Linked DNA regions of Homo sapiens. The protein of the gene in region 7 interacts with the protein of the main gene of each other region in a biochemical or structural test. Each region holds a gene or a part of one and is shown on either strand. Other genes may lie near its edges. The genes, in order: CREBBP, SREBF2, HDAC6, PTPRB, MAPT, PTPN7 and MAPK3.

Region 1 (3,500 bases), about 26 Mb from region 7:
GAGCTAATAGCAAAGCAGTGCTCCACCCCACGCACCAGCCCTCACTAAGGCTGACCCCCAGAGCGAGCTCCTGGGGTGTTGCTGACGAAGGCATGTCCCTGCCCATTGTTGTCCATGAACCAAACACACAAGGGACAGCAGGTCTACATGCCGACACCTCAGCATCCCGCCTCCTAACACATGCATGTCCCCGGTGCACAGGGAAGGCTGCCCCAGCAGGAGCCCCTATCAGGCCTGTCTTCTGGACAACCCCACTGCTGCCATGCCACAGGCAGGTGCCCCCTCCTGGGGTGGAACTCAGCTGCGCAAAGCCTGTCTCGGACGCGGTAACCTCCCGTGTCACCCTTAGGAGATGGAACTCAAGCATTAACTCACCAGACACCAGTGAGACCAGCTACACTCCAGCGGGAGCAAGTCCGAAGACAACAGGCCAGGAGCTCTGCTTAGGAGCCACCTAGGGCGTAAACCCACGCCACCCCCTGCCCGCGCCTCCTCTGTCCTGCGAATGACACTCTGGGGCGCCGTCCAGCAGGTGGCTGCCTCTCAACCACCTGTGCAGTGAGCACGAGTGTGTGTGGCGGAAGCGGCCCAGGCCCCACGCTCCGCCTACAGCCCATCCGGCACCCACCTCACAGACGTGCTCTCATATGGGACAGGCACCAGAGTGGCAGTATGTCCCCAGCCGGCTCCCGGCTGCCTCACCCATGGCAGCAGCCCACGCAAGAGCCACCTCCATTCACCGCTTTTCCTCACTGGTCACAATCGCCTGTCCCAAGTTCTGGGGCTGCAGCCTTCAACGTTCGTCATCGCTCTCCCTGCACCTACAGCTACAGCCCACACCCACGCCACCATCATCTCTTCCCCAGACAGCCGCACAAACCCGCACACAGCGCGCCTCCTCCCACCGCCTGGCGGGTCCTCTTCCAGCACCTTCCTGTGGTGGGCGGGTCTGGCCCACACGCCACCTCCCCAAGGCTCCTTCCCCTTCAGAGCTCTGCCACGCTCAGAGCACACCATGCTTGGGTCTGGGTTCTTTTTGTTTCACATCCTACCAGGACACAGCCACTCCCTTGGGGGCGGAGATGGGGTTTTGTTTGTTCTGAAACGGAGTCTCGCACTGTCTCCTGGGCTGGAGTGCAACGGCGCAATCTAGGCTCACTGCAACCTCCGCCTCCCGGGTTCAAGCGATTCTCCTGCCTCAACCTCCCTCGTAGCTGGGATTACAGGTGCCCCCTCCCACAACCGGCTAAATTTTTGTATTTTTAGTAGAGATGGGGTTTCACTGTGTTAGCCAGGCTGGTCTCCCTTTCCTGACCTTGTGATCCGCCTGCCTCGGCCTCCCAAAGTGCGGGGTTACAGGTGTGAGCCACCGCGCCTGGCCAGGGATGGGGTTTTGTTTGGCTCAGTCTGCACTGCCTGGCACTCAGGGGCAGCGCCAAGGAGAGAGGGCAGCAGGGCATGAGCATCATGTGCAGAGTGGCCACCAAACACGGAATAAGGCCTGGCAACCCTGTGCCTCCTCGACTCACTTTTTACATCAGCGGGTTGTGTCCTGACTGCCCCATGTCCCATTTTCTGTCTTCCTCTCTTCCCTCTCCGAGTCTAAGTGGACCCCCAGCTCCCCAGAGCATCCACTGTGCAGAGAGTGCAGAGCCCACACTGCTGCCCACCAACGCCCTGTGCTGCAGGTGGTGTCGACGTGCATGTGTGAACGGAGACACCACCACAGGAAGGACCTAACAGTCGACACGCGCCTCCCAGCCTGCCACCCTGCAGCTCCAGCGGGACACGTGGGCAATGGAGCTCAGAGAAGGGTCTGTACCTCAGTGGTTTCACTGGCTGCAGTGCTCTCTTCCTTTTTCCTCTCCTCTTCTTCTTGTTCTAGTTCCTTAATGCTCTCTTCTAACACATTGGGCCAGAAATCACCTTCAAAATAGGGCAGTTCCTTGGCACTGGTGAGCCTGTCTTCAGTTGCTTGTTTGAAAATATCCTGAGTGGGCAAAGCACAACAGTGAGATGAGGGCCATGCACGCGTGCCCCCCACCATGGTGCGACAGACCCCCACGCAAGCGTGCCCCTCACCATGGTGTGGCAGAGTCCCATGCATGTGTGCCCCCCCACCACAGTGCAGCAGACCCCCACACATGTGCACCCCCCACCACAGTGCTGGAGCCCCTATGTGTGCAACAGTGATGCACAGGCCCCAATGCCCACTGATGGAAACAGCTCCAACTGTGCTGCTCTCAGACGGCCAGGGGAAAGCCTCAATCAGCTGAAGAAAATGCTTCTAAGTTCTCACTTTAGGCTTTTATTTTTCTGCTTTCTAATCCTCATAAGTGAAGGTAATTAACAAGTATGCGAATGCAAGAAAAAGGCACACAAATATCCTCCCCTCAGTTGTGACAAAAGCCACCACCTTCCTTCAGCGCCGGGTACCTTGTAGTCATGGATGATCCGCTCTGCAAACGCCTTGTCCAGCATCTTTTTGTACCACTCCTGCAGTCGTTTTGGCTTGGGTATTTTTTGATCAGGTGGGTGGCAATGGAAGATGTAATCATCTCCTTCACTTGGAGGACAGGCCCAGATGTGCCCTGTCACATACCTGCAGGACCCACGCACACACGTCAGATGAACGTGCCAGTGAAATCGGCCCTGCCTTTAAGGAGTTATAGCAGAGGAGCAAGGACTAAAGCCAGGACAGAAGTAACCAGAGAGAGAGAATGAATGCCCACAAAGCTGGGTGTGGTGGGGGCAAGGCTCGAACTTTATCCTGAGCAAATGCAAGCCTGCAAATTAGCCCTGCAACACTTCTCCCTTGGGGTGCACACACAGGGCAGGGCCGAGGCTGCAAAAGAAACCTGAGGCCTCATTAAAGAACCAGGGAATATGATGGCTCATCAAGGCAATGCCATCCCCTTCCTCCTGTGCACTGTAAAGGCAGTTCGGTTGACTATTTTTCTCCAAGGGTCAATGTCAACATAAACCTCATTCATTCTGTTCAAGACACTTTGATCAAATGCCCCTATCCTTTTCAAGTTTCAGAAGGGAATGGGGCAGGTCTAGAGTACAGAAACCAAGGGCTAGAGAAGGAAGCCAGACCCAAGACAGCATACGCTGCAGGGTTCCGTTTACACAAAGGATTCACAAAAGACAAATTCAGAGAGACAAAGTAGATTAGTGGTCGCCTGGGGCAGGGAAGGTTTAACAGCAAGGGGCAGGAGGAACATTTTTTTTCTTTTTTCTTTTTTTTTTTTTGCGGGCGGGGGGCAGAGTTTCATTGTTGTTGCCCAGGGTGGAGTGCAATGGCATGATCTCGACTCAGCGCATCCTCTGTCTCCCTGGTTCGAGTGGCTCTCCTGCCCCCACCTCCTGAGGAGCTGGGATTACGCTAGGCACCCGCCACCACGCCTGGCTCATTTTTTGTATTTTTAGTACAGACAGGGTTTCACCATGTTGGTCAGGCTGGTCTTGAACTCCTGATCTCAGGTGATCCACCTGCC
Region 2 (3,500 bases), on a different chromosome or scaffold from region 7:
CTGACTTCAGGTGATCCACCTGCCTTGGCCTCCCAAAGTGCTGGGATTACAAGCATAAGCCACCACCCCTGGCCTATTTACATTTAATTATGATTTATTTTTCCTATCCTTCTGCAAGCATATATATATATATATATATATATATATATATATATATACACACACACACACACACACACAAAATATCAAAATATATATATATATGTATATATATATATATTTTTTTTTTTTTTTGAGACTGAGTCTCGCTCTGTTGCCCAGGCTGGAGTGCAGTGGCACGATCTCTGCTCACTGCAAGCTCTGCCTCCCGGGTTCACTCCATTCTCCTGACTCAGCCTCCCGAGTAGCTTGGACTACAGGCGCCCACCACCACGCCCAGCTAATTTTTTGTATTTTTAGTAGAGACGGGGTTTCACCGTGTTAGCCAGGATGGTCTCGATCTCCTGACCTTGTGATCCGCACGCCTTGGCCTCCCAAAGTGCTGGGATTATAGGCGTGAGTCACCGCGCCCGGCCCAAAAAATCTTTGTGTTTTTTTGTTTGTTTGTTTTGTGTTCAGAGAAGGGATCTGGCTAGGTGCCCTGGCTCATGCCTGTAGTCCCAGCACTTTGGGAGGCCAAACCGAGAGGTTGCTTTTCAGGAGTTTGAGACCAGCCTGGGCAACATGGTGAAATCTCGTCTCTACAGAAAATACAAAAATTAGCCGGGCATGGTTGGCGCACACCTGTGGTCCCAGCTACTCAGGAGGCTGATGTGGAAGGATCGCTTGAGCCTGGGAGGTGGAGGCTGCAGTGAGCTGAAATTGCAACACTGCACTCCAACCTGGGTGACAGAGCAATACCCTATCTCAAAAAAAAGAGAGACAGAGTCTCGCTGTGTTGCCCAGGCTGTTCTCAAACTCCTGACCTCAAGTGACCCTCCCACCTTGGCCTCACAATGCACTGGGATTACAGGCATGAGCCACCACAACCGGTCTCAGCAGCTTTCTGTTTGTCAGATATACAAATATACCCCAGGCTCCAGGCCCCCACATCCCCCAAAAAACACACACACACACACACACACAGCATCAGAGACCTGAGAAGGACATCTTGGTGGAGGTTTGGGGGAATGGAGATGGTTCCTTTTATTTTTTTATAGTGGTGGTGTGGTGGTTTTTGTTGTTTTGGTGTCTAAATCAGAGCATCACATGGCCTTGAAGGTTTGGAAAGGAGGGGCCATAGTTCAAGAACAAGCAGTAGCTTCTTGGGAACGTATTGGAGAGAGAAAAGAGAAAAGAATATGGACAATGTAGAGAATTGTAGGTCTGAAACTATCTGGGACAAAGCTGAGGCTCCTGACTTCTATAGGGACCAGTCATATGAAAAAGAAGGGAGTCGTGAGAGATGATGGGGTAGTTGTGGGTTAAGTTGGGTTTTGGAAAGCCTTTGGGAAGATTGACCAGGGAAGAGGCCCTGGAAGTAGGCTTGAGACCCTTTGGGCTGGGAATTTAAGGGTCCCAGCTACTTGGAACATGATCTAGAAAGGGAAGCGAGGTCTCCAGGTGGACAAATCCCTTTGGACCCAAGACTCCTTGCCCAGAGAAAAGGGGCACAACCAGACAAGGGCTAGCATGGGCCCTGGGAAGCACGGAGTTCAGGGTGGGGCAGGCTTGCTGTGTCCTGGCCTGGCAACATACCTGCACTGTGTTGTGGTAGAAGAACACAAAGCTGGGAGGCAGAGAACTGGTTCTAATCCTAGCTGTACCCTGACAAGCTGTGTGACCTTGGCCAAGTTACTTTCCTCTCCTGGACTTCATATATGGTTTTTCCATTCTTTGCATCCCTGAAGCTCCATGACTTAGGGGCCATCAACTTGGTTGTCCCTGAGTGTTTCCAAGAATACCAACAGTGCCCAGGGTTTTACTCAGCTTGGAGAGGAGGCCTAGAGCCTCCCTGTGGTGAGGAGGAAAGAGGTTAGAGCAAGTTTGGGTCTGCAGTGCTAGGATTAGAGGTGGCCTCACAAGCCAAAACCGCTATACTCACAGCCTTAGGACAGTGACTCCCTACTCGCTGCCTCAGTGTTTCCAGCTGTAAAAAAGGACCCTTGGTACCTTCGACAGAACAGCACCCATCTAGTACAAAGGTAGTTCCTTTTATGATCAAAACAATCAGGAAAAAGAGAGAGGCTGGGTGCGGTGGCTCACACCTGTAATCCCAGCACTTTGGGAGGCTGAGGTGGGTGGATCACCTAAGGTCAGGAGTTCGAGACCCACCTATCAATATGGTGAAACCCTGTCTCTACTAAAATTACAAAAATTAGCCGGGCATGGTGCCGTGCACCTATAGTCCCAGCTACTCAGGAGGCTGAGGCGGGAGAATCGCTTGAACCCAGGAGGCAGAGGTTGAAGTAAGACAAGTTCGCGCCACTGCACTCCATCCAGCGTGGGCGATAGAGGAAGACTCCGTCTCAAAAAGAAAAAAGAAAGAAAATGAGAGAAAGGGCCTGGAGGTGAGTGTGAGGAGGGAAAAGAACATCAAACAGATAAAGTCCTGTCCTGTTGTCCTGGGACCTTGGGCAGCCATCTTGGCCCAGATGATCCCCACAAGAAAGAGGTAAGGGTTTCCTGACCCATTTCTGCCATGGTCTTAGGAAAGTCATTGAGTTTTCATGCCTTAGTTTCTTAAGCAAGTTTGAAAGTTCACTTTTTGGATAGCAATAAAATTACTCCTTTTCTTTTGTTCACAGAGATGCTGCAATTTGTCAGTAATCAAGTGGGAGAGTTCCCTGACTTGTTTTCAGAACAGCTGTGTAGCTCCTTTCCTGGCAGTGGTGGTAGTGGTAGCAGCAGCGGCAGCAGTGGCAGCAGCAGCAGCAGCAGCAATGGCAGGGGCAGCAGCAGCGGAGCTGTGGACCCTTCAGTGCAACGGTCATTCACCCAGGTCACATTACCTTCCTTCTCTCCCTCGGCGGCCTCCCCACAGGCTCCAACTCTGCAAGTCAAGGTTTCTCCCACCTCAGTTCCCACCACACCCAGGGCAACTCCTATTCTTCAGCCCCGCCCCCAGCCCCAGCCTCAACCTCAAACTCAGCTGCAACAACAGACGGTAATGATCACGCCAACATTCAGCACCACTCCGCAGACGAGGATCATCCAGCAGCCTTTGATATACCAGAATGCAGCTACTAGCTTTCAAGGTGATTCAGAAGTTAGAATGGTAGTGGTTGGTTGGTTCCAATGTTTATGTGCCAGTTTGCAGACACTGTAAATATTTCTGTCGTCTTCAGGAATGGCAGGTATATCAATATGGTCCTGTCTGAATGAGGTTCTGGTAACTGGCAATAAGAACTGGTACAGGAGCATGTCACATTCTGCAGCTTCAAATACCTTAATATCTATTGCGCCTAATTCAAAAATACTTGGTTAAAAAATCCAGCAAGCGGCCGGGCGCGGTGGCTCACGCCTGTAATCCCAGCACTTTGGGAGGCCAAGGCGGGCGGATCACGAGGTCAGGAGATTGA
Region 3 (3,205 bases), on a different chromosome or scaffold from region 7:
CCAACTCCCTTGAGCTGCCAAAGCAATTCTCACCACGTGGGAGAAATTCAGCTCTCAGACTGTCCTCCAATTTCCCACCTGTGGTCAATGGCAGGCACCCCTTCTGCCAAGAAGCTACCATGACCACCACATTCAAGTTAAACCTGGACCTCCCACCATCCCCAGTCAGGCCAATGAGACAGTGGGGAAACAGGCCTGGTAAGGATACTTCCTGCTAGTTTTCTTGCCTTCTCAGCCTAGGGTGTGGGTGTGGCTGGGACTGGCTGTGAGGCTCCTATTTATAAGGCAAGCACCCATTTTCTCATGGATTCTACCATTTTATATCCCGTGGAGCCAGTCAAGATGGCTGCTCTATTTTCAGTTAGTTTTTTGGGGGCAATGGATGGGCAGGGGATTGACCTGACAGAGACCCACTCCCTCATTCCTTCATTACTCATCGGCTCTGCTGGCCAGGGATGTGGGGTTCTCCACCTGCTCAAAGTCAAAAAGCTTTCTCCAGGTTTTTTAACAGCTTGTACTTTATTACATATGCAACCTTGCCATGCCTGCCAGTTAACTCCCCTCCCGCCAATGTTATCCTCATGATATCAGCTCCCTCTTGGGGCCACTGAGCTGCCCCCCTTTCCTTCTGGGCTGGAGTAGTGGTGCCCCTCAAGCAGGCAATGGGCAGGGGGAGATCCACAATTAATCGTCGCAGTTCTCTTAAAAGTATTAACACTTAAATAAGCACTCTTGGGGAGTTGCAAAGGATATTCAGGATGGGATGCAGTGGGAGGCTACCCCTCATCCAAGGTACAGGCTGGAATGAGCTACAGCTGGTCTATCGTGGGCCTCAGAAGGTGAAGAGGGACCGTATTCTGGGGCTTAGTGTGGGTGGGGCATATCCTCCCCAAACTTGTTCTGGTGGGCGATGTTCTTCACATCTAGGAGAGCCTGAGGAGGAGGCAAGAATAGGGCAGGTGAGAGAGAGTGAGGACCCCTCTACCTCGGCTGCAGGGCTGCCCCCACTCCAGCCCTCAACCACTCTGTCTTCTGGACTATCCCACAGCCCCCGCCCCATGCAAAATAATCACATGAGGCAGCCATGCAGAGGGGCCTGTGGTCTCCCTTTACCCAATCACAGAAGGGGTGTGTGTGTGGGGGGTGAGTGTGCACGTGTCGAAGGGTCTACCCAGGGCCCACCTGGTGGTGGACATAGGCCTGACAGTAGTAACACCAGGCTGACAGGTCGATGTAGCTGAGGACCAGCGGGTGTCCAGAATTTCCATGGTGTTGGAGCATGTGGCCATTGATGTAACGACCACAGTAGACCTGAGGTTGGGGGTGTGAGTGTCAGGTGGGGGTCAGCATCCCCCTGCAGTTTGCTCCCGGGCCAACCTCCGCCCCATCCCCTTCCTCTGCTCCATACCTGATAGCAAGAGAGACACACCCAATTCTCTTGGATTGTTCCACAGTCCCCACAAGGTTGGGTCACGTCTAGGCCTGCTGCAGGTATGGGGCATACTGCCACCAAATGGGGACACCAGGGCAGTGGTGTCACAGCATAAAATATGGCCTGGAGTGGGTGGGTGAAACTAGGTAAGCTGAAGACCCCATCTCCCCATTATATGTTTATTCATCACATGCTCCTACCTGGAGACACAAATTGGCAAGAGAAGGAAGCCACAGTCCCAGCCTCTCCCTGAGCTCACCTGATCAGTGAGGCCCCTAGATCCCTGCATCAGCATCGAATCAGCCATGTCCTGACCTCCAGCTGCCTCTCCTAGTAGGTTCTCCTCTCCTGGGGCCTGAGATTCTGAGGCCCCCTGGACACGCAGAAGTAAGAGATGTATCAGAGAAGCCCGATTCTTGCCCCTTCTTGCCCCTACCTGGGTGTGGTGAGCCTTACCTGAGATTCGCTGCCTAGCTCCAAGGTCCTGAGACTCCCAATCAGTGTACTGGGAGATATCTGGGGTGTAGTTCCCTGCACAGGTGAGGTTGGGGGGGTCTGGTGGTCTGTGCTCGAGGCTAGAGGAGTTTGGATCAGCTCGGTGCCCCCTGGAGCCTCCTCTGACGTAGTCTGGTCCAGTGTGGCTCCCTCCATGGCTGCCTCCGAGGTGGTCTGGGCCAGTGTAGCTCCTCCTACAGCCTCCTCTGAGGTAGTCTGGCCCAGCGTGGCTCCCCCAACAGCATCCTCTGAGGTGGTCTGGTCCAGAATGGCTCCTCCCACAGTCTCCTCTGAGGTGGTCTGGTCCGGAGTGGCTCCCCCGACAGCCTCCTCTGAGGTGGTCTGGCCCAGCATGGCTCCCCCAATGGCTGCCTCAGAAATGGTCTGGGCCAGAGTGGCTCCCCCTGTGGCTGCCTCTGAGGGCTGGTCCTGAGTGAGGGCCACCACAGCTGTCTCTGAGTTAGTCTGGCCTGGAGTGGACTCTTCCCCAAATGATGCCGAGGTGACTTTCCCCATGCCTGCTTCCAGAACCTTCTTTTCTCGTGTGGTCATCCGCTCAGCTAACCTAGGTTTGGCTGGTTGGGGTGCCTTCTTGGTGACCAACTTAGAACTGGAGGGTCCTTCTCTGTCTTCTACCTCTGGAACCAGGGAGGGAGATCCTTGAGTGTGGGTACTGTCACCCTTCCTGCCTCTGATCTCTGCCCCTCAGCCCCCTCCTTCCCTGGGTTCCCCCCATCACCCCCAAATCCACTCACTCATGACCCGTAAGCTGCGCCAGTATCTGCGATGGACTTGGATGGTCTCAGTGATTGAGGCCAGGGCCCCTGATAGTGGGGGCCGTGGCAGGGTCAGCAGGGGTGGTGGGTCTCCAAGGAGGGAGCGAGTGCAGGCAGCCATGGACTCTGAGATGGATGTCAGGTTATAGCCACCCTTTGTTAAGGAAAAGGGGAGGGAAAGGTATGGTGGGGGTTCATTGGGGAATTTGGAGGACAACATGTCCTGCCTCCCCAATCCTCCCTACTGAGCCCTGCAAGTCTGGAGAGGGAGGGGGAGTACTGAGAACAAGTGAACAGAACCCACACCTTTAAGATAGGCAGCACCCACTGTGTAAGGTGGTTGTTGTGGGGAGTAAATTGTGATGTAAAGTGCAAGATAACAATACTGATAAAAGCATTAGTAACAGCTGACATTTATTGTTTGCTGTGTGCCAGACCCGATTTTAAGTACTTCATGCATATTAACTCAATCCTCACAACCACAGGCGCTCAATCTATACAG
Region 4 (3,500 bases), on a different chromosome or scaffold from region 7:
ATCCACTCACCTCAGCTTCCCAAAATGTGGGATTACAGGCATGAGCCACCGTGCCCGGCCTTTATTCTAGTATACTAAAAAAGGTGTAGGTTCCCAAATGTGCCATCCTTTCTCTCACCTCCAGGGCTTTGTTTTCTCTGTTGGAACGAAGACAACTTACACTTCACCTGGATGACTTCTTAGTCTTTCTTTAAATATTACTTCCTCCTGAAAGCCTTCCCTGACTCTTCTTGTTTGCTCCTCTAACATCTCATAACCACTTTTTTCTTAGCACGTACCATGTTTTACTGTAATTGCCTTTTTACTTTTCTATCTCCTTCACTAGATTATAAGGTTCTTGAGGTCAGGGGCTTTGCCTTGCTACTGAATGCCCACTTTCTTTTTTTGGAGACAGAGTCTCACTCTGTCACCAAGCTGGAGTGCAGTGGCATGATCTCAGCTCACTGCAAGCTCCGCCTCCTGGGTTCATGCCATTCTCCTGCCTCAGCCTCCCGAGTAGCTGGGACTACAGGCGTCTGCCATCACACCCAGCTAATTTTTTGTATTTTTAGTAGAGACGGGGTTTCACCATGTTAGCCAGGATGGTCTCAATCTCCTGACCTTGTGATCCACCCACCTTGGCCTCCCAAAGTGCTGGGATTACAGGCGTGAGCTACCGCGCCTGGCCCGAATGCCCACTTCTAACACAGGATTTGTCATAGGGTTAAAGATATGCAGATATAGATATAAATATAGATATGAAATAGAGGCATAGTAGGGCATGGTATAGAAGCCCCAGACCCCACAACTAAATAAGTGGTCATGAGAATGGGAGACATCTAAGAAGTATTGTGTCACAGTGGAGAGGGCACGAGGTTTGGGGCCAGACAGACCTAGACTTGAATTATAGCTTTAGGTCTTGTTATATACGTATCCTTGATACTGTTTTACAAGCTTTCTGAACTGTTCTTTCCTCATCTGTAAGAGAACTATAGTATGGCTAGAGATCTTTCAAAAATAATACATGAATAGTGATATTGATATAAACAGATATATTATTCATACATTTGATACTTGTTTTTTTAGCTCTACCAGGTAAAGTAGATGGCACAGATGTGTACTCTTTCTTAAAAGGTAGAACTTTTGAAAAATGCATAATTATGGAAGTCTCCTTATTAAAATTTATTTATTTATTTATTTACTTATTTATTGGGACAGGGTCTCACTCCGGTTGCCCAGGCTGGAGTGCAGTGGCACGATCACGACTCACTGCAGCCTTGACCTCCCGGGCTCAGGTGATTCTTCCACCTCAGCCTTCCAAGCAGCTGGGACTACAGGTGTGCACCACCACGCCTGGCTAATTTTTTGTATTTTTAGTAGAAATGGGGTTTAGCTATGTTGCCCAGGCTAGTCTCGAACTCCTGAACTCAAGCAATCTACCTGCCTTGGCCTTCCAGGGTGCTGGGATTACAGGCGTGAGCTACTGTGCCCAGCCTGCTTGTTAAAATTTAAAATTTTATTATCCTTTAGCAAGTATAAAAATGTGTTCAAATGATTTGGTTTCTGATTCCCTTTCATTTGTTTTGCAGATCTCTATTAAGAGAAAAATACAAAGAATAAATGAGTAAGGCTCTTGAAACCATTGAATTGTACAAACTTTGGTGGTTTTAAATCTGGATTTGTGAATAGCTGAGCCCGTTCACTGTCCCATTTTGGAGAACCATGAGGCATTCTACAATCTAGCCCTTCTCCAGGTGGATGCTTACCTGTCCGCCCAACCACATTTATCTGATTCTTCAGGGACCCGCTGACTGAGGCAATCATGATCTGGTACTGCTCCCCGGCCTCCAGTCTGTGGAACGTGTGCTCAAAGACGTGCTTGGGAATAGTCTGAGAGTCAACCTTTTGACTGTGCCTGAATGCCGACACCGTGTAGGAATCAACGTCTCCCCCACCAGGAGTCCAGTTCACCGTCAGGCTATCTGTTGCTCCATTGGGAGAAATGTGAATATTTTTGACAGCACTAGGAACTAAAACAGAAAATAAATTTAAAAGTCATCACTTAGAGAATGAACTGTTGAAATTTTCAAACAAAGTTTTGAATGCTTCTGATGTTTTGGCACCCACTGAGAGAACTCACATGAAAAAGAAAGTAACAATTTGCCACTTTTCTCTGATTTTTCTGTGTGAACTAAAGTTGATGGGGGAAAGCTTAGGGGGAAGTCAAAGCCGGTGAGTGGAAATGAGGAATGCTAATTATATAGCGAGGGGCTAGTTAGGGTGTCTTGGTCCAAGTTTTGGTTTTCTCACTCACTAGCTGTGGGACTACAGGCAAATTACTTGACCTCTGTAAGTTTTAGTTTCTTCATTAGGAAAAATGGCAGTGATGATAATACTAACCAGCCCATAGAGTTGTGAAGATTGATTCTTTTTTAATTTAATTTTATTTTATTTTTGAGGTAGGGTCTCTGTCTGTTGTCCAGGCTGGAGTGCAATGGCATGATTATGGCTCACTGCATCCTATACCTCCTGGGCTCAAGTGATTCTCCCACCTCAGCCTCCCCAGTAGCTGGGACTACAGGCACGTAACACCGTGCCCGGCTAATTTTTTTGTATTTTTTGTAGAGACAGGGTTTTGTCATGTTGCCCAGGCTGTGCTTGAACTCCTGGGCTCAAGCTATCCTCCTGCCTTGGCTTCCAAAGCATTGTGAAGACTGAACAAGATGTAGACATAAAATGCTTTGCTGTGGGTCTGGTTCATGGTGAACTGTCAGTACATGTTAACTACTATGGCAACACTCCTAAAAGAGTTCTAAAGAAGTGATACCCAAGTAACACTTAATTCTTAATCTGTGTGCCTCAGAAGCACCAGCTGATCACATCAGTTCATTGCTATTTCTCTGAAAGCACCCTCCAACCCCGCCACTCTCTGCTGACATCATACTTTATTTTCATTCATCCAGGTTGGACAACATCATTGTCACTATCAACATGACTTTGTCCCTTCTTGCTGTCTCCCTTTTATCCCTCCAAATGCTCAATCGAAATACCTGAACTACCCGAAAGTTAAATGCACCACTGCATCTATTCAGGTTCAAGAACAGTATTTCACATTACCTGTGAAGCCCTCAATGAAGGCTGACTGCTGTACATCCCCGCTAATCGTCAAGACAAGAATTTTGTATTGGCGGCCTGGTGTTAGGGAAGTAAATCGATACTCGGTTGCGGTATTTACAAGGTGAAAAGGAGGAAATACTTTCATGTCATTGAAGAGCAGCTGGATCTCATATTGGTCGACATCCCCATTAGCTCCTGACCAAGTCACATGCAAGTCCTCAGTGCTCCTGTTGCGCAATGTTAGATCCTTAACAGGCTCTGGAACTAGGGAGAAAAATGAGAAGACATTTCAGGAAAGGAACTGATCAGAGTTTACCTACATAATAATTTATGAATCACATTCAAGGAACTGGCAACATCTCCCTTCCCCAAATAAACCACTAGCACTACTTCATGCATAATTA
Region 5 (3,500 bases), on a different chromosome or scaffold from region 7:
AGGGACGGGTGTCTGCACGCCTGTCCCTATGGAGGCGGGGCTGGGGGGGGCCCTGGAACCAGGATGCAGGATAGATGGTGACTGACACCCACAGTTCGTCCTGCCCGTGGGGGATTTTGACGGGTGGGCATGGCCCTGGAGGAGAAGGGGGTGTTTGGAGGGGAACAGGTCACACTCTCGGGAAACAAAGTGGGGAGGCTAAGCCTCGAAGTGTTTCCAAGAGCAAGTCAGAGCTCAGAGAAGGGTCCTGTCCCAGACTTCACTGGGCTTCTAGGGGATGCTATCTTATTGCTTTCCAATTCCCCATGGAAGCGGCCAAGGCCCTCTGTGTGGTCAGGCTTGGTAAGGAGGACCCAGGAGATGAAGTAGCAATGGGAGAGGAGGGACACAGGCTGGGGCCCTGGGGCTGATGACAAGAAAGCAAAGCTGGGGTGGGGGTATTGACGACTCCTCCTTCCCTCGCTGCACACGGCCCCTCTCCACCAGCAGCACTCCCCAGCTGGCCGAGGCCCAGGGTAATAGATCTTTCCCCTCCCTAGACTCTGGGCAACTCCAGGGCAGGGATGTTGTACCCATGTGTACTGAATGAATGAATGAAGGAAGGAACAAATGAATGCATGCATGCATGAGGCTGGTATTCCCTGCCCCCTGCCCCCAGCACTAAATGTGCACCGTGATTGACAAGCAGCTGTCACTATCACTTCAGAGACCCAGGCCAGCTCTCCAAATCCCCACAGGCCCTTCCACTGCCTCACTAGATGAGGCTGGGGAGCCCTGACTCTGCAGGCACTTCCGGGAGCAGCCCTCAACACACCACTGAATGCTCAGAGCTATGTGGCAACTGGAGATGCCCTCCGGGCTCCAGTACTGATTAAAATTCAGGTGTTTCAGACAGAATTTATGCTGGAAATTTTAGATACCTTTAAGAAAAATAGGTCTTATCTAGAGCCATGGTGGGATTTTCCAGGAAAAACGCCACTGTGCAATTACGGGAGCATTTCCCCAGACATTTCCCCAGTCATTGAGACAGTAAACAATGGGTGAAGTGAAATACTGAGAAGGATGGGCGAAGATCTGGGTGCAGTTTATGCAGTGAGAAGATGGCTTCATTTACTGTCCTAGGGCTGGTTTTCAAACACACCTTCATTTACTGTCCTGGGTTTGGTTTTCAAACACACCTTCATTTACTGTCAGGGTCTCACTGAAAGTACACTAAGAAAGCTGGAATTAGGAGCATGACTTCATGAACCTGCCAACTGCTCTTCCCTGGGGTAAGTATCAAAACTAATAAATGCTGGACTTTTTAAAAGCCTGCCCCAAAATACAAAGCACTTTAAATGACAGCTGTACTTTAGTGACAAATACTCCCCACATTATATATGAGAATGAATCAGACATAAAGCACAGCTTCTCTGTAAACTTGACCAGCTGCAGAGCTCCGTGGCATCGTCAGCTTACCTTGGCTTTTTTGTCATCGCTTCCAGTCCCGTCTTTGCTTTTACTGACCATGCGAGCTGATAAAATATAAAATAAGAATGCTTGTCACACTCCATTTTCACTGTTCACAGAAAGCCAGCTGTGGTGAAGCTGGATTTCTCTGGGATAGGTCCATGTTTGTTTAGTTGGGTCTGGTGGAAACCCAGTTGGTTCTCTTTTCCCTTGAATCTGCTAGGCCTCGCATTGTTAGTATCAACACAGCACACTGGGGTCACTGATTAGCGCAACCTGGCAAGAGGGGGCAGCAGGCTGGCCGAGGGTGGGACCATGCAGAGGGGACGCAGCAGAAACTGTCACGGGGACATGATGGCATGGAGGCTATCTAAGGAAGGTGCAGTCTCCCTAACCCACAGGCTCCTGCCCTGTTTCTGCCAGGGTCAGCCTCACCCCACTGGGACCAGCCCCACTCCATGGATGGGTGTTTTAAAAGCCTCAGGGCCATGGATGTTGGTAGCTCAGTGAGGACCCAGCCTCCTGCAAGATCCAAGGATGGGGGTGGGTGCATTGTCTCCACACTGCAGCCAGGCTTGGCCCTGATTCCCTGTGAGGTGCCTGCTCACCCTCTTGGCCTTGGAAACTGCCTGGAACCACCCGGCTCCCCTGCCCATGTGGCTAGATTGCCAGCAGTCCTGATTTCCACCTTCCTGGCCATCTTATGCTGACCAACCCATCTCCATTTCTGGTCACACGCCTCCAGAATAGGAGAGGCTGGCAGGGTTGTCTTTGTCCCCTAGTTGCTGGTTGTACCCCCAGGGCCTGCCCCTCACTAATGGTGGCTTTGGCCACCAGCCCCAGCTGCTCTGAGACGAGCCAAGCCCAGCCCAGCCCTGAGCCAGGCCTGGTGGGTTTCTTGCCACTTACTGGTCTTCAAAGGGCACGAATTCTCACTGCTTCCCCAAATTAGCTACAAACCAGTTACCATCATACATTCCCACAGACAACATCAGCCTTCATCACACTCCTTGGTGAAACCAACCCGCTGACCTGTCAGCCAGCATCAGCGCTAACTCACCCTTCTCCTTCTCTTGACAGTCACTGCTGAAAACTGATCATAGATTTTCTTCTTTGGTTTCAATATCACATTCCCTCTACCCCATGGACAACTGGGTCTCTTGGAGCTTCTCATTGGCTATTGTCACCTGGATTTCTAGAGGGACCAGCAATGAGTATGCCCAGAGGTTTTCCAACTATACTATGTGGCAGAATCACCTGCTAAAAGACTCCCAGGCTTACCCCACAACTGGGTCTGTAAGCCTAAAGTGGCACCTGGGAACCTGCACTTTAGTAAGAGCCCCAGGCGGATCTGACTCACGTGTTCTTTGTTTTGCCCACATCAACCAGCACCATCCACGGCACAACAAAAGAATCTGCTAAATCGGCATTTCCCAAACTTCCTCCAGGAAATGTTAGCAGGTAGAATCAAGTAAGTTTGGGAAACCCACTCTGTGACCTTCTCAGAGGGTCACAATGGCCATTAGTACATTAAAGGCTCTGACAAGTCCTGCAGCAGAAAAGCCTGTTTAACTTACTTTAGTCTTTTATTTTTTTCCCCCAGTCACTGGGCCATGGAACTCTTTTTTAATCCAAACACACCTATGAACCTCTAGTAGGCCAGTATTCAAGAAAACATCATTTCAGGAAATATTGTAGTAACCTGTCAAGTCAGTTATTTGTCCCCTACTGTTTTGGAATTTAACAAAGGATATAGGATATATTTTTTTCTCTCTTAACTTTATTTTATTTTATTTTTTGAGACAGAGTCTCACTCTGTCGCCCAGGCTTAGGGTACAGTGGTGTGATCTTGGCTCACTGTAACCTCTGCCTCCTGGGTTCAAGCACTTATCCTGCTTCAGCCTCCCCAGTAGCTGGGACTACAGGTGCCCGCCACCACGCCCAGCTAATTTTTTGTAATTTTAGTAGAGACAGGGTCTCACCATGTTGGCCAGGCTGGTCTCGAACTCCTAACCTCAAATGATCCACCTGCCTTGGCCTCCCAAAGTGCT
Region 6 (4,087 bases), on a different chromosome or scaffold from region 7:
CCAGCAGGGCCCCCAAGGGGACTGGAAAGCAGAGTACTGCTACCTGCCTCCATCTCCAGAGCCCTATCCCCAAAATATAGCACCTGCAGGTCCCATTTCTTTCTCCATAGTTTGGGGCCTGGCTCTCATATTCCCTGGTCTCCCATGACCTCCCTGTCCCCTCCCTGGCTATCTCCAGTGCAGGGATTGGCCGGACGGGCTGCTTCATCGCCACGCGAATTGGCTGTCAACAGCTGAAAGCCCGAGGAGAAGTGGACATTCTGGGTATTGTGTGCCAACTGCGGCTAGACAGGTGGGTCTGTGGGTGTAAACAAGGCCAACAACGTTAACGGATGGCATCAGTGCCTCTGGGCCCCAGAGTTCTGCTAGGCCCATCACCATCAAGCACTCCTGCAAGAAAGGAAGAAACCCTTTCTGCTTAGAGCTGTTTATTTTACAACTAACAACCAGGAAAAAATATCTATCTGGATGGCCGGGTGCGGTGGCTCACACCTGTAATCCCAGCACTTTGGGAGGCTGAGGCGGGTGGATCACCTGAGCCCAGGAGTTCGAGACCAGCCTGGCCAACATGGTGTAAACCCTGTCTCTACTAAAAATACAAAAATTAGCCAGGCCTGGTGCGGGCCCCTGTGATCCCAGCTACTCAGGAGGCTGAGGCAGGACAATTGCTTGAACCCAGGAGGTGGAGATTGCAGTGAGCCGAGATTGTGCCATCGCACTGCAGCCTGGGTGACAGAGCAAGACTCTGACTCAAAAAAAAAAAAAAAAAAAAACAAAAAAAAGAATATCTGTCTGGAATGTTGGCTTGGATGCCTGGAATTAAACATGATATGAGGCAGCAACAAGTAGTGCAAAGAAGATCACTGGGTGGAGGCAGAGCCGGTGTTCAGATTCTGACATCTGTCTCACTGAGATGTCACTAGATTTCTCTGAGCCCCCATTTCTTTTTTTTTCTTTCTTCTTTTTTTAATAATAGAGATGGGGGTCTCACTATGTTGCCCAGACTAGTCTCGAACTCCTGGGCTCAACAATGCCCACTTGGCTTTGCAAAGTGCTGGGATTACAGGCTTAAGCCACTGTGCCCAGCCCCCACTTCTTCTTTATCTAGACAGAGATAATGGCTCCTTCCCCCAGAAAACTGTTGTAAGAAATGAGTTAACTTATATGAAAATGTTTTGGAAATGGAAACTACTATACAAATGTATGGAATCATTATTTTTACTTTTTAAGATTATTAGAAAGAAGGAAACTTGAGGCTCAGGAGTATTCCTGGCCCGACCCAAGGCTTCAGAGATCTGGTTTTGTCCCAGGAGCTGAGTGGATCAAGGAAGACCAAGTGTCAACATGGGGCATCACCCCTCAGCACGTGTAAGGGGCAGAGGACTTCTCTCACAGCAGATCTGAGGGGCAGCAATGAGGAGTAGAAAGTAGAAAAGATGAATATAGGTGGTGGGGCATGGTGGCTCATGTCTGCAATCCAAGCAGTTTGGGAGGCCAAGATGGGCCAATCACTTGAGGTCAGGAGTTCAAGACCACCCTGGCAACATGGTGAAACCCTGTTTCTACTAAAAATACAAAAATTAGCTGGGCAAGGTGGCAGGCACTTGTAGTCCTAGCTACTCAGGAGATTGAGGCAGGAGAATCACTTGAACCTGGGAGGCAGAGGTTGCAGTGAGCTGAGATCATACCACTGCTCTCCAGCCTGGCTATCAGAGTGAGACTCTGTCTCACAAAAAAAAAAAAAAAAAAAAAAAAGTGAAAAGATGAATATAGGCAAAGGAGTTGGCATGTTCTTTGAGAAAGTCAGGACTTTCCCAGTAGGACCACAGGGATGTTTGACTGGAGCCATTCAGCCAGCACCCTGACCCTCCTTCACTCATGGTCTGTGTGTTTCTCCTTGCAGAGGGGGGATGATCCAGACGGCAGAGCAGTACCAGTTCCTGCACCACACTTTGGCCCTGTATGCAGGCCAGCTGCCTGAGGAACCCAGCCCCTGACCCCTGCCACCCTCCGGTGGCCCAGGTGCCTACCTCCCTCAAGCCTGGGAAGGTGGGTCTGGGGAAAGTGGGCCGAGTGATCTGGGGGTACCCCTTGGGTTGGTGTGGGGAAGGAGTGCCTCCTTAGTGGTGCTTGCAGTCACAGGAAGCAGCAGCAGTAAGGACAAGGGGCCGGATTCCAGGTCTTCAACACTGGCCACTCCTCTGCTTCCTCTGTTGGCCCCAGATGGACAGTAAGGGGAACCTCCAATGTCTCTCTGAACTTAAAGACAGGAGCTGGCATTTATGACAGACAAAGAAAGAAGCCCAGGTGTCCTGGTGTTCTCTGAGACACTCTTTGTGAGCTTCAGTTTCCTGTTCTATAACATGAACATAAGTGCTTAGCTGCCATGAGGGAAAAGTAATGAGAGAAGTTTCTAGAAGCCACTCCAGCCACTCCTTCCTGGGGCTGACAAAAGGGTGATTCCAAGATCATCCTTCACCCGAGGTCCTGCCCAAGCACAGGCCAGATGCAAGAATGGGGAAAAGTCTGGTCCTGATCTCCAAGTCTCAACATCCTATCAGTGACTCTGCTCCCTGACCACACATCGGAAGGGCTGGATGACCCCAATCAAAAGAAAGAACAAGGACTCTGGTTACCCTTGCCTCCACCCATGTGTCATAAGAGTAGGCTACAGAGGTGACCAGGCCTGGCAGTTGAAATCTCTGGAAGAGGGAACATGTGGGGACTACTCAGAGGCAAAGAGGAGCTGCTCCTGCCTCCATGGTTGCTGGCCACTCCCACCAACTACTCTTAGGGAGGCTAAGCAGTCTCTGTTTTGCTTCCATGGCTCAAATAATACCCTGGGTATGCAGGACCCACTATACCTTGCATTTGCTGAGTACACCTAGAGAGCTTGGCTGTTTCCAAAAACAATCAGGGTCATAACCATCCATGCAGACATGGAGGCTCGGCTGAACCAGGACTCCTCACTGTCTACCTGAGAGAATGAGCACCCCTCATCCATCTCAGCATCAACACAATTTCCAGGGGACCTCAGGTCTACCTCAGGACTGAACGCCACACCTCAGGATTCCTCCTCCTTGAATCTGAGACTGGCTGCCCATTCTGAGATGGGGATGAAGGTAAGATGCCGCATCACCAGGCACGCCGCCCCTGACAGCTGCCTTGATACCAGCTCTCTGTGGAAACCCCCGAGGAGTTGGATCTGGAGAACAGCTGGGCCTCCTCACTCAGGACTTCTCTCCTGAAGAACACGCAGTGCTAAAACTGAGGATGATTTCCCTAATGCTTCTGCTTGGCCTTATGGAGGAGCTGCTCCTTCCTTACAGCCTTGGGGATGGACTTGCCCACACCTCCACCTCCCCTGAGCCCTGTGAGAGGCACGACTGTCTATGCCAATGAGGCTCGGTGGGGGGCTCTCAAGTGCCTGATCCTGCCCTGGGCTCAGAGCCAGCCCAGAGGGAAGCAACTGCACAGCCCCACAGGCCCTCCCTGGCACTGTCCCCCCAACCCCATCTCAGAGCTCAGAGGGTACAAGCTCCAGAACAGTAACCAAGTGGGAAAATAAAGACTTCTTGGATGACTGACTCATTCCTTCTTTCCATCTTCTTCTTGGCCCTCTGGGGCCTCTTTGTAGCAAGAGAGAAAGACTGCAGACCAGGGACAGGCAGGCTGCAAATCTTTGCCCTTGGGATATGCACTTTTCTAGCACTTCCAAGGACATAAAGTAAGGTGAAACCAAAGTCAATTTAGGAAGTGAGACAGGGTGGACCCTCATAGCCTACCCAGGCAGCTGTAACAATTCACACTACCGTAAACCATGTGGCTTCTAAACAACAGAAATGTATTGCTGGCCTGGCGTGGTGGCTCATGCCTGTAATCCCAGCACTTTGGGAGGCCGAGGCAGGCGGATCACGAGGTCAGGAGATCCAGCTAACACAGTGAAACGCTGTCTCTACTAAAAATACAAAAAATTAGCCGGACGTGGTAGCACACACCTGTAGTCAGCTATTCGGGAGGCTGAGGCAGAAGAATTGTTTGAACCCTGGAGGTGGAGGGTGCAGTGAGCTATCATGCCACTGCACTC
Region 7 (3,308 bases):
AGACCCTTTCAAGGCTGATTCTTGTTTTCTTTGTTTTTTGTTTGTTTGTTTTTAGATGGAGTCTCCCTCTGTTGCCCAGGCTAGAGTGCAGTGGCTCAATCTCAGCTCACGGCAACCTCCACCTCCCAGGTTCAAGCTATTCTCCTGCCTCAGCCTTCCAAGTAGCTGGGACTACAGGCGCCTGCCACCACGCCCGGCTAATTTTTGTATTTTCAGTAGATGCGGGGTTTCGCCCTGTTCACCAGGCTGGCGTCAAACTCCTGACCTCAGGTCATCAACCCACCTTGGCCTCCTGAAGAGCTGGGATTACAGGCATGAGCCACCATGCCTGGTCTCAAGGCAGATTCTAAAAGACAGCCCTGACTTATTTTTCTAGAGACAAGCCAAACAGCATTTGTGGATTTATTTATTTATTTACGCATAAGCTTTTTTGTATCTTCAAATAGAAAAAGACATTTTACTCCTCCATCTTCTGAGGTATGGCCAAGCACTCTCCTTTGAGTGGGAGTGTGCTGTTGGGAGTGTCTCCTCATTTTTCTTGCACAAACCATTCCCATAAGGCAGGCATTTATTTTTAAGCAAACATTTATTGCATGCCAGATGGTGTTCATACATTATCTCATTTAACTCCCTCAACAGCCATGTGACTCAGGCATTCATATTAGTAATAATAGTTCATGTTTGCCTAGCACTCACAACTTGCCAAGCACTGGGCTGACAGCTTTACATGCGCCATCTCATCTAGTCTTCACAACCACCCTCAAAAGAACCATTATTTCATGGCTTGCACCTGTAATTTCCAGCACTTTGGGAGGCCGAGGTGGAAGGAACACTTGAACCCATGAGTTCAAGACCTGCCTGGGCAACAGAGCAAGAGCCCATCTCCACAAAAAGAAAACAAACAAACAAACAAAAAAACATTATTTCCCCTACATACCAGATGAGAAAGTTGAGGCACAGACAGGTTGAGATCCTAAAGCCAGTGAGTAGTAGAGAGGAGATTTCAGACATCCATGGGTTAACTCCAGAGTTGCTGCTCTTTTTGTAGGTTTTTTTTTTTTTTTAATTTATTTATTTTTGAGACAGAGTCTCACTCTGTCATCCGGGCTGCAGTGCAGTGACACAATCTTGGCTCACTGCAACATCTGCCTCCTGGGTTCAAGTGATTCTCGTGCTGCAGCCTCCTGAGTAGCTGGGATTACAGGCACATGCCGCCGTGCCCAGTTAATTTTGCTATTTTTAGTAGAGACAGGGTTTTGCCATGTTGCCCAGGCTGGTGGTCTCAAACTCCTGGCCTCAAGCAGTCCTCCCGCCTCAGCCTCCCAAAGTGCTGGGATTACAGGTGTGAGCCACCACTCCTGGCCCAAGTTGCTGCTCTTAACTGTGAAGTTCTCCTGCCTCCCACAGTTTATTATTATCCCCGTTTCCCCGGTAGGGAAACTGAGGCCTCAGAAATGAAGCCCCTTGCTCAGGATCAGCAACTGTGATGCAACAGAGGCTCAGAGCCCTGCCGCTGGGTAATGGCAGCAGCTTCCCCAGCTGGTGGTGCAGGTTGGCAGATCTATTGAGTCCCAGGGGCCCTGGCTGGAGGAGGTGTGCAGCCTCGCCTTCAGAGCCTGTTTTCCTTAACCAAGTGCCTCCCACTGCCCCCTGCCTGGGGGGGTCTGCGGAACCATCCTCAGCTACATTGTGCAGGACCTGATGGAGACTGACCTGTACAAGTTGCTGAAAAGCCAGCAGCTGAGCAATGACCATATCTGCTACTTCCTCTACCAGATCCTGCGGGGCCTCAAGTACATCCACTCCGCCAACGTGCTCCACCGAGATCTAAAGCCCTCCAACCTGCTCATCAACACCACCTGCGACCTTAAGGTCAGAGGGTTGGGCACCTGTCCCCTCCTCCCCCAGGGTCTGGGGCTTCCAGTGACCAGTAGAAGAAGCCTTGGGCAGGAGAACATTGCAAGCAAAGGGAACAGTGGAGGCAAAGACAAGGGGGCGTGACTGCTTAGGCTGCAGAGGCCTTGAGCGCCGAGCTTAGCAGCTAGGTCTGATTCCAGATTTGTGATTTCGGCCTGGCCCGGATTGCCGATCCTGAGCATGACCACACCGGCTTCCTGACGGAGTATGTGGCTACGCGCTGGTACCGGGCCCCAGAGATCATGCTGAACTCCAAGGTAGGAGGGGCTGCCCACTCCTGAAAGGAACGGACCAGTTCCCAGGAAGCCCTGGAGCTACCTCTGAGCCAGACACTGACCCCCATGACACAGGAATTCTACCCTCTGGGCCTTGGGCTCTGCAAGGAAGCTGAGCATTGAGCCCTCCAGGCCTCTGCCTTCTGCCTGGTGTTGGATCTAACTTGGAGGTGGTGGCCTGGCGCAGACAACAGGACCCTGTTGAGGCTGGCCCAGGAGCTCACCACTTCCTCCTCTCCCCCAGGGCTATACCAAGTCCATCGACATCTGGTCTGTGGGCTGCATTCTGGCTGAGATGCTCTCTAACCGGCCCATCTTCCCTGGCAAGCACTACCTGGATCAGCTCAACCACATTCTGGGTGAGGGAGGCCCGGCTGGCTGAGTTGGGGATGATTAGCTTTTCCGAGGTGAGATTTCTCGAGAGTCCAAGTCAGGGATACCACCACGTGTGGGGTGCCTCCAGCATCTCATGGTATCTCAATGAGGTATAGATATTATCCCCATTGGATAGATGGGAAAAGCAAGGCTAAGTCCCACACCTGAGGAGGCACCAGACCTAGGATTTGAGCCTCGGTCTGCCTGAACCCAGCCCCCTTGCTCTGCACCACCATGCTAATGACTAGGAGGTGACTGAGGGATTGGCATGGGTTGCTGGGCTGGGGGGTCTTGTTCTTGCCTTGTTGCCTATTCTGTTCCCAGAAAGAAAGAGGTGATCATTTACCAAGTCACCTCCTTATCCACAGGCATCCTGGGCTCCCCATCCCAGGAGGACCTGAATTGTATCATCAACATGAAGGCCCGAAACTACCTACAGTCTCTGCCCTCCAAGACCAAGGTGGCTTGGGCCAAGCTTTTCCCCAAGTCAGACTCCAAAGGTTCGAGAGACATGAGGGTGGGTGTGGGATAAACCTTGGGTGTCGTGGAGGGTGTGTGAGCCCAGCAGCCGCTGGAGGAGACAGGCAAAGCAATGCTTCTCGGAGCTCCTCCAGTCTTCCCTGTGACCCCTGACTCCTGCCCTTCCATAGCCCTTGACCTGCTGGACCGGATGTTAACCTTTAACCCCAATAAACGGATCACAGTGGAGGAAGCGCTGGCTCACCCCTACCTGGAGCAGTA

Evidence for each region.
Region 1: of the proteins of MAPK3 (region 7) and CREBBP, one has a biochemical effect on the other in vitro, tested with the Homo sapiens proteins (2 studies listed by BioGRID).
Region 2: of the proteins of MAPK3 (region 7) and SREBF2, one has a biochemical effect on the other in vitro, tested with the Homo sapiens proteins (2 studies listed by BioGRID).
Region 3: the proteins of MAPK3 (region 7) and HDAC6 form a complex in vitro, tested with the Homo sapiens proteins (2 studies listed by BioGRID, with this or other methods).
Region 4: of the proteins of MAPK3 (region 7) and PTPRB, one has a biochemical effect on the other in vitro, tested with the Homo sapiens proteins (2 studies listed by IntAct).
Region 5: of the proteins of MAPK3 (region 7) and MAPT, one has a biochemical effect on the other in vitro, tested with the Homo sapiens proteins (2 studies listed by BioGRID).
Region 6: the proteins of MAPK3 (region 7) and PTPN7 form a complex in vitro, tested with the Homo sapiens proteins (3 studies listed by BioGRID, with this or other methods).

What each region holds. Positions count from the first base shown.
Region 1 is NC_000016.10:3,734,214-3,737,713, forward strand, and holds part of CREBBP (CREB-binding protein), read right to left. Parts: intron 2,603-3,500; coding exon 2,437-2,602; intron 1,991-2,436; coding exon 1,823-1,990; intron 1-1,822. UniProt on the Homo sapiens protein: Acetylates histones, giving a specific tag for transcriptional activation. Mediates acetylation of histone H3 at 'Lys-18' and 'Lys-27' (H3K18ac and H3K27ac, respectively).
Region 2 is NC_000022.11:41,864,105-41,867,604, forward strand, and holds part of SREBF2 (sterol regulatory element-binding protein 2), read left to right. Parts: intron 1-2,726; coding exon 2,727-3,176; intron 3,177-3,500.
Region 3 is NC_000023.11:48,822,272-48,825,476, reverse strand, and holds the end of HDAC6 (protein deacetylase HDAC6), read right to left. Parts: intron 2,858-3,205; coding exon 2,683-2,857; intron 2,566-2,682; coding exon 1,889-2,565; intron 1,806-1,888; coding exon 1,692-1,805; intron 1,556-1,691; coding exon 1,409-1,555; intron 1,312-1,408; coding exon 1,183-1,311; intron 934-1,182; coding exon 865-933; 3' UTR 501-864; downstream 1-500.
Region 4 is NC_000012.12:70,567,930-70,571,429, forward strand, and holds part of PTPRB (receptor-type tyrosine-protein phosphatase beta), read right to left. Parts: exon of another isoform or gene 3,361-3,500; coding exon 3,097-3,360; exon of another isoform or gene 2,010-3,096; coding exon 1,746-2,009; exon of another isoform or gene 1,569-1,745; intron 1-1,568. UniProt on the Homo sapiens protein: Plays an important role in blood vessel remodeling and angiogenesis. Not necessary for the initial formation of blood vessels, but is essential for their maintenance and remodeling. Can induce dephosphorylation of TEK/TIE2, CDH5/VE-cadherin and KDR/VEGFR-2.
Region 5 is NC_000017.11:45,985,054-45,988,553, reverse strand, and holds part of MAPT (microtubule-associated protein tau), read right to left. Parts: intron 1,515-3,500; coding exon 1,459-1,514; intron 1-1,458. UniProt on the Homo sapiens protein: Promotes microtubule assembly and stability, and might be involved in the establishment and maintenance of neuronal polarity.
Region 6 is NC_000001.11:202,146,516-202,150,602, reverse strand, and holds the end of PTPN7 (tyrosine-protein phosphatase non-receptor type 7), read left to right. Parts: intron 1-178; coding exon 179-292; intron 293-1,230; coding exon of another isoform or gene 1,231-1,368; intron 1,369-1,903; coding exon 1,904-1,997; 3' UTR 1,998-3,587; downstream 3,588-4,087. UniProt on the Homo sapiens protein: Protein phosphatase that acts preferentially on tyrosine-phosphorylated MAPK1. Plays a role in the regulation of T and B-lymphocyte development and signal transduction.
Region 7 is NC_000016.10:30,116,913-30,120,220, reverse strand, and holds part of MAPK3 (mitogen-activated protein kinase 3), read left to right. Parts: intron 1-1,682; coding exon 1,683-1,872; intron 1,873-2,057; coding exon 2,058-2,174; intron 2,175-2,436; coding exon 2,437-2,551; intron 2,552-2,935; coding exon 2,936-3,067; intron 3,068-3,217; coding exon 3,218-3,308.